Linked DNA regions of Homo sapiens: region 2 is linked to region 1. The links come from fine-mapping of genetic effects on gene expression. A gene starts in region 1. The other region holds a variant in brackets. All regions are shown on one strand. Distances are from middle to middle.

The links. PIP is the estimated chance that this variant, and not a neighbour inherited with it, causes the effect. A credible set is the group of variants that fine-mapping cannot tell apart.
Region 2: its variant is the best candidate, but not a certain one, in a credible set for the expression of CRIP3 in whole blood (INTERVAL, PIP 0.56).

The regions. Positions count from the first base shown.
Region 1 is chr6:43,305,821-43,311,201 of GRCh38, forward strand. CRIP3 (cysteine rich protein 3) reads right to left here and starts at 3,006. Exons shown (of 8, transcript NM_206922.3): 1 at 2,930-3,006; 2 at 2,495-2,589; 3 at 2,019-2,076; 4 at 1,792-1,923; 5 at 626-697; 6 at 399-493; 7 at 247-304; 8 at 1-55. The coding sequence starts at 2,972. It also overlaps the pseudogene RPL12P47. RefSeq lists an enhancer at 1,666-2,523.
Region 2 is chr6:43,329,489-43,334,869 of GRCh38, forward strand. No RefSeq gene overlaps it. Among named protein-coding and RNA genes, the nearest start is that of CRIP3, 23 kb to the left of the region's middle. The variant C/T (reference allele first, on the strand shown) is at 2,206.

The sequences.
Region 1 (5,381 bases):
AATTTTATCTTCACTGGGTCATAGATGTAGCAGCCCACATCGCCAATGTTCACACCTGAGAGAGAGAGCCCTATCACCAAAGGCCCTGGGTCTGTGGTGCAGGGTTCAGGCCTAGAGGGAACTTGGTGGGGGGGCCAGGGTATGCTTAACCACAGGGGAAGTTGTCCACACATACCCACAGACCATGTACATGCCATACTTCAGGCATGTACATGCCATCCCAGTGTCTGGGATGGGGCTGCCCACCTTTGGGGCCAAACAGGTAGCCGTAGCAGGGGACGTGGCAGTAGGGGACTCCATCATGCTGAGACACAGAGAGAAAGAGAGCTGTCTCAGCCTGGTTCTCTTCCCATCTCCAGCCTCCTCCCAACATAACCACTCATTCCTGCCCTGCTCACCTCAGCATGACTCCCAGCAGTCAGGGTCTTGTGGCAACGCTGGCACCTCAGACACGGTCGGTGCCAATTTCTGCCTAATGACATCACCTTCTCAGCTGGTGGTGGAAAGAAGTGGTAATGCTTCCATTCTAGGGGTAGAGTAGGGAGACCTACCTGCCTTGGATCACCTCCCTCCCCCTTGCTGCCCACCCTGTATCCCCCTCCCCAAGTTTTCCACTGTTACTTACCAAAATAGACGGGCTCCCCACAGCCAGGGCACAGCGAGGTCTCCCCAGTGAATGTCTTCATATGGGGAGGGCCTTTAAAGGGGAAGAGGCCCTGGCTATGTCTGAGGTGGAGATGCCCACCAGCACCTGCCTGCATATGGTGCTGTCCTCTTTCAAAAGCCATGCTCATTCCAGAGTGCCCCACCCAGGCGCCCAAGAGTCTGCCTTCTACAGGCCCAGAGCTGAGCCCCCTCTGACTCCACCTCCTGCCCCATCCCTATGTGTATTAGGGACTATCTGCTTCCTTCTCCTGCTTCCTTTTCATCCTCCCAGGGGCTCACGTACCCACCATCCCAACCCTGTTAGCAACTCAATCCTCAGGAAACTTGAGCTGATATAGGAGCTGGCCACAGCACGGGTGTCAGGTGTTGGGGAGCACAGTGTCATTGCCTACTTCAGGGAATGGAGGGAAAGAACAGGGACCAGAGGAGAAAAGTTGAAGAATATGAGAGGCTGGCCTTATCCCAATGACTCCTCTCCTTTAGATCATTCCTTCCATGGCCCTGGCCTGGGACAGACCTAAGTTCCTGGCCAGCTTTGCCTCTGACTAGCTTTGTGGATGGACAGTCATTTGCCCTGTCTGGATCTCACTTTCCTCACCTGTAACACACGAGGAGAGGGGATAATGCCATCTGCCCAATTAACCTCTTTTTTTTTTTTTTTTTTTTTTTTTGAGATGGAGTCTCGCTCTGTTGCCCAGGCTGGAGTGCAATGGCATGACCTTGACTCACTGCAACCTCCGCCTCCTGGGTTCAAATGATTCTCCTGCCTCAGCCTCCCAAGTAGCTGGGATTACAGGCATGAGCCACCACACCTGGCTAATTTTTGTATTTTTAGTAGAGATGGGATTTCACCATGCTGGCCAGGCTGGTCTCGAACTCCTGACCTCATGATCCACCTGCCTCGGCCTCCCAACAATTTACCTCTTAACTCAGCAGCTCACATGAGGGAATAGAAAGAAAGAAAGAAAAAAAAAGCGGGGAGTAGATAGAGAAGACTTTGCCAAGAATGAAGTTGTGAGAATGTGAAGCAGAGGGCTGGATAGGAGACTGCCACCTGGCCCAACCTCCGCTCCAGCTTGGGGAAGGGTCGGGAGGAGGACTGGGAGGAGCTGAGCCCAGCCTTACTTTTCTTGCCTTGGGGGAGGCCAGTCCTTGGCCTGGGAGGGCTGAAGCTGCTGGGGCTGAGAGGAGTGGTGCAGCCAGGGCTGGGAGTGGGGGGATTGTACAAGTAGGAGCCTACACCACCAATGTTCACCCCTGAAGAGAGAATAGGGGAGGTCAGGCTTGAGCCCCCAGCTCCCAGCCACAAGGAGGGTTCTGCTGACCCATGGCCCCTTAAGGCTGGTACTTACCCCTGGGTCCAAAGAGAGCCCCATAGCATGGCTTGTGGCAGTATGGCCTCCCATTGTGCTGGGCACAAGCAGAGGGAAGTGGGTTACTCAAGGCCAGCGGGAGCCATGCCCCACAGGCCTTCACCCCAGACAGGCTGCCAGGTGTGTCTGTCCACTGGCTGAGTCTGGTGGGCCTGGGAGGGGTGGGGGATGGGCTGGCATGCCAGCATTTCCACTGTGGTCAAGGGAGGAAGAGCAAGAGCAGCTCAGAAGGTGACGCTGCTTCCCACTCACCCTGATCCCCAAAACCATGGGATCCACAGTCACGACCCAGGTTCCCAAATTCCTGGCTGGTGTGGGGTCCACCAGGTGGGCGGCCTTGGGGTTGGCTACTGAGGTTCCCTTTGGCAGGCCTCCAGTGCTGAAGTTGGGGGCTGGTGCCTGGGGGGTGGGAGGCAGTGATGTAAACAGGGCAGTGCTCCCTGGCCAGGTCTTACCTCTGCATGCCCGCCAGGGGACAGGATGCTGTGGCAGCGCTCACATTTCAGGCAGAAGCGGTGCCAGTTCTTGCCCAGGGAGCTCACCTTCTCAGCTGTGGAGGACAAAGTGGAACCGAGCTGCGAGGAGCCTGTCCAAGCATAGGGCCCCTCCTTTCCCTCTTCGGCCCTCTAGGGAATTAGGTTGGCCTGCCCTGCTTCCTGGAGATGAGTGTCTCCAGGAGGCCAGCTCCATCCCGCTCCGGTTTCACACTCCCCACAGAGCTCTCAGAGGAAGGGAGAAGACCCGAGTGGGAGCGGGTGGTGCGGAGACTACCAGCCGCTGCAGGTGAAAAGGGTGTCTGGGACTACACTGTGGCTAGCCCTCCGCGTCCTCAGGGAATCCAGCGGCTCCCATTCGCCCCATCTTCTCCCCCTCCGCAGCCCGGGCCTCACCGAAGAAAACAGGTTGCTGGCAACGCGGACAGGTCCAGCTCATAGCTCCGCTCCAGGCAGCGCACGCGGCACACAGTAGGTACGCCGCTGCGGCTCAGTTCCGCCCCCTCCGCAGGCTCCACCCACGGCTCAGCTTTGAGCCTCCCTGGGCGGAATCCGCGGTTCCTCGGCGCTCATTGGTTATCAGAAATTTAGAACCACTCCACTTGGGAGACAAAGGGCTATTTCGCTGTTACTTCAAAGAGCATTAAAGCCTCGGTCAGACCCACGGGGAGGAGAGAGGATCTTGAAGCCGTGGACTCCAGACTAGGAAGGCACATGTGTAACGAAGACACCTGGACAGGGAGCTCTACTAGTTTCTGGAGCGGTAAGGACAGGAAAAATGTCCACAGTGCAGACATCATTAAAACACTACTCTCTCCAAAGCGAGGGAGTAGGCATTCTTTGAAATGCAAAATTCCACCTTGGCAGTATAGCAAGTGGTTGAAAGCAACAAAATCTGGAGCCCGTCTCTGGTACCCTACTCTTTGACTTCAGGCAAATTACTGAACCTCCCTCTCTGCCTCCATTTTCTCATCTGTGCAATGAGTATGATAACAGTCTCTGCCTCATAGGATTGTTATGAGAGTTAAATAGGTTAATACATGTAGAGTGCCCAAACAGCGCCTGGCATGTAAACGCTGTAACAGCTATAGCTATCACTATGATGGATCCCTTAATGAACTCAAGACTCGGTTTGGAAGCCTCAGAACATGGTCTGTATACAATCGTTTACTCCTAAAGCTGTAGGGTGGCTGGACACAGTGGCTGACACCTGTAATCCCAGCACTTTGGGAGGCCAAGGTGGGCGGATCGCCTGAGGTCAGGAGTCCAAGACCAGCCTGGCCATCGAGGCGAAACTGCGTCTCTACTAAAAATACAAAAATTAGCTGGGCGTGGTGGCGCATGCCTGTAATCTCAGCTACTCGGGAGGCTGAGGCAGGAGAATCGCATGAACCGGGAGGTGTGGAGGTTGCAGTGAGCCGAGATCGCACCACTGTACTCCAGCCTGGGGGACAAGAGCGAGACTCCATCTCAAAATAAATAAATAAATAAAAATGAAAACCAACTACACATTTCTAATCTGGTTTGCTTTAAAATTTTTAAATATTTGTGTTTTTAATGAATGTATTTATTTGAGGCAGGGTCTCTGTTGCCCAGGCTGGAATGTAGTGGTGCATCGTAGCTCACTGCAGTCTCCACCTGCCCGGCTCAAGCGATCCTCTCACTTTAGCCTCTGGAGTAGCTGGGACTACAGACACATGCCACCACACCTGGCTAATTTTTGTATTTTTTGTAGAGATGGGGTTTTGCCATGTTGCCCAGGCTGGTCTCGAATTTCTGGGCTCAAGCGATCCACCTGCCTGGGCCTCCCTAAGTGCTGGGATTACAGGTATATGCCCCCATGCCCAGATAAATATTTGTTAAAAGTAGTTCAATAGACTCTCTGGCACCATTAAAGAGATCCTGGGGACTGCCCAGTCTGTGGGCTGTAATGTTGATGGCCGCCACCCTCATGACATCATAGATGATATCAACAGTGGTTCTGTGGAATGCCCAGCCAGTTAAGCACAAAGGAAAATATTTCAATAAAGGATCATTTGACAACTGGTGGAAAAAAAAAAAAGTAGTTCAATAGTGCTTCAAAGGATATTTCAAGAAATTTAAATCCAGAGAATGGAAGAAATATTTGCAAATCTGATAAGGATCTAGTAACCAGATTATATAAATAACTTATAATGCAATAACAAAAAGACAACCCAATTAAAAGTGAGCAAAGTATTTGAATAGATGTTTTTCTAGAGATACACAAATGGCCAATAAGCACATGAAGAGATGCTGAATATCAATAGTCATTAGGGAAATGCAAATTAGGACCACAATGAGATACCATTTTATACTGACTAGGATGGTTATAATTAAAGAGACAAATATTGGCAAGAATGTGGCAAAATTGGATCCCTCATACATTGTTGGTGGCAACATAAAATGGTGTGGCCACATTGGACAACAGTCTGGCAGTTCCTCAAAAAGTTAAACATAGAGTTACCATATGACTCAGCAATTCCACTTCCAGGTTTATACCCAGGTATATAAGAGAAATGAAAACATATGTCTATACAAAAACTTGTACATGAATGTTCATAGCAGGACTATTTACAATAGTCAAAAGGTAGAAACAGCCCAAAAGTTCATTAACTGATAATGGATAAACAATATGTAGTATATCTGTATGATAGAATATTGCTCAACTGTAAAAAAGAATGTAATACTGATGCATGTTACAACACAGGTAAACCATAAAAACATTAAGTAAGAAAAGCAAGACACAAGAGGCCACATATCATATGAATCAATTCATATGAAATATTTAGAATAGGTAAATCCACAGAGACAGACAGTAGATTAGTGG
Region 2 (5,381 bases), 24 kb after region 1:
TAGCCCCAAAGTACAAAGAGGAATAAAAGTACCTATTAGCATTTTTTGGCCAGGCGCAGTGGCTCACGCCTGTAACCTCAGCACCTAGTGAGGCTAAGGCGGGTGGATCACTTGAAGTCAGGAGTTTGAGACCAGCCTGGCTAACATGGTGAAACCCCATCTCTACTAAAAATAAAAAAATTAGCCAGGCATGGTGGCACACGCCTGTAATTCCAGCTACTCGGGAGGCTGAGGCACGAGAATTGTTTGTACCCGGAAGGTGGAGGTTATAGTGAGCTGAGATCGCGCCATTCCACTCCAGCCTGGCCGAAAGAGTAAGACTCTGTCCCCCCTCCAAAAAAAAAGGTACCCACTAGCATTTTTTCCTTTTTTCTTTTTCTTTCTTTCTTTTTTTTTTTTTTTTGAGACAGAGTTTCGCTCTTGTCACCCAGGCTGGAGTGGAATGGCGCAATCTTGGCTCACTGTGACCTCTGCCTCCCAGGTTCAAGCGATTCTCCTGCCTCAGCCTCCCAGCCTCCCAAGTAGCTGGGATTATAGATGACTGCCAACACCCCTGGCTAATTTTTTGTATTTTTAGTAGAGATGGGGTTTCACCATGTTGGCCAGGCTGGTCTCGAACTCCTGACCTCAAGTGATCTGCCAGCCTTGGCCCCGCAAAGTACTGAGATTACAGGCATGAGCCACCACACCCAGCCCTTTTTTTTTTTTTGAGTTGGTGTCTCTGTCCTCCAGGCTGAGGCGCAGTAGCCCAATCAAGGCTCACTGCAACCTCTGCCTCCCGGGTTCAAGCAATTCACCTGCCTCAGCCTCCCAAGTAGCTGGGATTACAGGCATATGCCACCATGCCCAGCTAATTTTTGTATTTTTAGTAGAGACAGGGTTTCACCATGTTGGCCAGGCTGGTCTCGAACTCCTGACCTCAGGTGATCCACCCACCTTAGCCTCCCAAAGTGCTGGGATTACAGGCATGAGCCACCGCGCCTGGCCCATTTTTAGTTTTTTTTAAATTTATTTTTGAGACAGGGTCTTGTTCTGTTGCTCAGGCTGGAGTGCAATAGTGCAATCAGAGTTCAGTGCAGTTTCAACCTCCAGGGTTCAAAGCGATCCTCCCACCTCAGCCTCCCGAGTAGCTGGGACTACAGGCATGGACCACCATGCCGGACTAATTTATTTTTTGTAGAGACAGGGTCTCACTATGTTGCCTGGCTGGTCTTGAACTCCTGGGCTCAACTGATCTGCTGACCTCGGCCTCTCAAAGTGCTGGGATTATAGGTGTGAGCTACCATGCCCAGCCCTTACTTGGATTTTATTTTATTTTTTTCAAGACGGAGTCTTGCTCTGTTGCCCAGGCTAGAGTGCAGTGGCATGGTCTTGGCTCACTGCAACCTCTGCCTCCCAGTTTCAAGCAGTTCTCCTGCCTCAGCCTCCTGAGTAGTTGGGATTACAGGTGTGCGCCACCACACCTGGCTAATTTTTGTATTTTTAGTAGAGATGGGGTTTCACCATGTTGGCCAGGCTGGTCTCAAACTCCTGGCCTCAAAGCATTCCACCCACCTCAGCCTCCGAAAGTGCTGGGATTATAGGCATGAGCCACCATGCCTGGTCCTCTACTGGCATTTTAAATGAGCAGAGAGTAAGGGGTTTCCTTGGTGTTTTGAAATGATGCTTGCCTGCTACTGTGTACCAGAGGTTTCAATGTGTGTGGGACAAGTACAAGACAGAGTGAAAACTGGTGGACAGCTGCCCTGAAGTCTGATATTGAAGGATCAAACATCTCCTTTGTGATTGTCCCCGCTTCACTGAGTCTCCTTTGCTTACTCATACCCCAATCTTCTAAGGACATACCCAATTTTACTTTGTCTTTGTATGGACCAATAAAAGAGGCTAGAACTGAGATAAGAGATGTTCTACTTAGGGGCACATTGGAGACTAGGGCCCAGGAAGAATATGAAGACCTGAACTCTACAGCTTTAATGTAAGTATCATGGCACAAAATGAGATATGGGACTTCAGGAATAATTTATTCAATGCTAAATAAGGTGAGGAGTGGCAAGTCTAAAATACATACCCTCTATGTACATTCTAATCTTGTTCATCCTCTACAGGTACAACAATATACACATTCACTCACCCAACTCACCATTTCCTGGCAGCTAAAATGACAGGATCTTCTCTACAACTTATCCCCACCCCCATCAGTCATAC[C/T]CACCTTCTGGAAGTCAGATCCTTCAGGTGATTGCCTACTGGCCACAAGGGCACCCATCATTTCCGTGGCCTCTGTGGTTTCTATCCCTGCCTTTCTGGGGGCAGAAATGTCTGCTGCAGTCCTTCCTTTTGGAAATCTGAAGACTTTTGGAATTGCCCCTGAAAAGAAAGGAAGATAAGTGGGTGAGAGTCTGTAACAATGTGACCATAGTCATCCTTAGGAAGGTGGTTACAGGAAGGCTGGGTGGAAACTTAGCAGGGACAGAGTGTCAGAGAGACGAAATAAAATAATATCTTAATATGGCTGATTTTATCTCTGCTTTCTCCACATCCTCTACCTTTTGTTCTCCCGTTATGTAACTCTGCCTCTGTTTTCACCCTGTTCGTTCACTTCCCTTAAACATACTCATTTCCCTTATTTTCTACAAAACTTCTTTCTTGCCTAATCCTCCACAAATGGAACCAAAGCCTGTAAATCTTTAAATCATTACATCTAGATGTTATCTTCTGTCCTTTTGCATGCGACAGACTTTTTTTATCTTTTGTGTACCTGTATTACTTTGTGAAACAGGTATCTTGATTTATATCATTTAATGTCCAAGTGCTTGTACAACATTAATGAATATGAACAACCAGTTCAACAGAGGTTGGGGAAAGAATGGGAAGAGGAAGAGAGGAAGAAGGAAAGAATGGTAAGACATTCCTGAAGAAGGTATGTTGCCCAGCATCGATGGGAATAGAAGAATTTAGGAAGTCTTGAGGGAAAAGCAGCAGGACCTATTTGTAATGATGGAAAACAGACAAGAGGTGTGAAGGAAAACAGGGATGCACTGAGTAGGAGAGACACAACTTAAAAAAAATAATTTTAATACAGAAAAGTATACAGAGGGGTAAAAAAAAAACTGGCCTATAATTCCACAGCACTGGATAACCCTTACTACATGTTATCATTTTATACATGTATGTGTGTGCATGTGTATAGTTTATAAAACATTTATATTTTATAGAAAATGCATTTTCATGGTCACAATGTTGAAACAAAACAGAAGATACAAAATAAAAAGTGATAGCATTCCTTTTCCCTCTCCCAAAGGCAACCTTTTTTGGTTACGATTTAGTTTTGATGAGATGACAAGAGGATGCTGGAGACCATAAACTGTTGAATTACTTCTTCAACCAAATCAGAGGGGTTTGGGGTTTGACTGACTTCAGCATGCTTATGAAGTCTGGCTGGAAGGAAAAAGGAGGCCATTTGAAAACTGGATCCCCAAAACCTTTTGTTTTTGCTAACTGTAAGGTCAGTTTAACTCCTTCTCATCCTCAGTTTCTCTTCTAGGAGCTGCAGAAGCAGTGTTCCCATCATGGCCTGGTGCCATTATTCCAGAATGCTGTTGAAGTGAGGGAACCAATGGCAACCTTGACATGCCTCAATGATACAGTGCTTTGTATACAAAGACCCAGGACAGAAGCAAGAGGACAGCTGGCTTCTAGAGTGCTAAACACCCAGAAAATACAATAGGCAATTTACAGTTTTTACTGACTTATAATTTGCTAAGTATTCACAATTTGTTAATAAAAACAGCTACTATTACCACATTGATTCTTTCAATGAATTTTTATTGAGTACCTGCTATATGCCAGACAACTGTGCACTGTGAATACAATGATTAAAAAAATAGTAAGCAAAGACAGACTTCTTGCTTTGGGGAGTTTATCATGTACTTAAGGGGAGCATATATTAATCAAAGAAACATAAATGTAAAATTACAACCACATTAAATGCTACAACATAAACATACATGTTTTATATGTATTCTTCTGGAAGTGTATATGGGTTGAGGGCAAATCAGGAGAGTTGTGATTTTAAGAGTAGAAGATTTTCATTATAAATTCAACTTCGTGGCTTATCGATGAATATTGTATACACAACTTAGTTAAAAATTACATAAAAATTACTGCAATTTTAAACTCTAAAGAGATGTGCTCACAAAACTATTTGTCCATGTTCTCACATAAATCGTTAATAAATGAAGACTTTGTTTAGGTTCTTATCCTAGATTTAGTATGTAAGCTTTGTTAAGGTGAGAACCAAGGTTTAGGGATATATATTAATATATCAACAAAGCTTGCCTATATATGTTTATATATATATTATCTATATTATATATATAAAAGAAACTATACTATATATAGTATATATAAAACTATATACATATATACATATATATATATGTAAAAGAAACTACCTCACTTATTTCTGTTACAGGCTACATCCTCTCTGAACCCTCCTCCAATTTTTAAAATTACACTTTATGTTCCTATTGGATGCATGTGTCCTGTATGTCCACCTCCCCACCCCATTCTTCCTCAGTCCTGGAATCTGGCAGACTGATAAATTGACTATGTGCTGGCATGCTCTGCTACCAAAATACTAACTTTCTGACTTTTTAGAAAGATGAAGTGTCATGGGCGAAGTAATACTTAACTATATTATTCAGCAATATTAGCAGAATATTATGTGCCCTGTGAATATAATATGGCTTGTAAAGCAGGAAGCCCCCCATTTGCAAGGCCAGGGGGAATTTTTAGCGGGTTATACACCTTAGGTAAAATTAGGTATTTGCCCAAATTTAAACATAATTGCTGATCATCTGCTTCTCACAATTGAGGATATCTGATAAAAGTTGTTCCTGATGTTTGTAAAATTTAAAACATAGTTATATTACACCATAAGCTGCATTTAAAATTCAGGGCCCATTTCTTCCATGTGCCTAAGTCTCCTAAGTTGAAAGTTTATTCAGTACTGTGATAGTAGAGAACAACAAAAAAATATGCTCTATCTCCAGCTACTGGGTTAGAATTCTGTCCTTCCTTTCACCTGTCTTCTCTGGATAGGTTCCAAAGCTAGATCCCACTAACCAAAAGGAAGGAGGCAGCAACACTTCCTGCCCAGAATACAGAATCCTCAAAGTTCTCCCTCTGCTGGTTCAAGGAAGATATAAAGAATGTCACTCCCGTAACTCTTAAGTGAGCATTATTTTTGAAAAAGCCGGATTGGTAGATGCCTTTGGTGTAAATCCTGAAGTTATCCAGAGAATACAAGAGGAGTTACTACCAAAGCTTAGGCTCAAAGTACTCCAGCCCTAGCTACCTGAACTAGTTCTGCCCTTCCTACA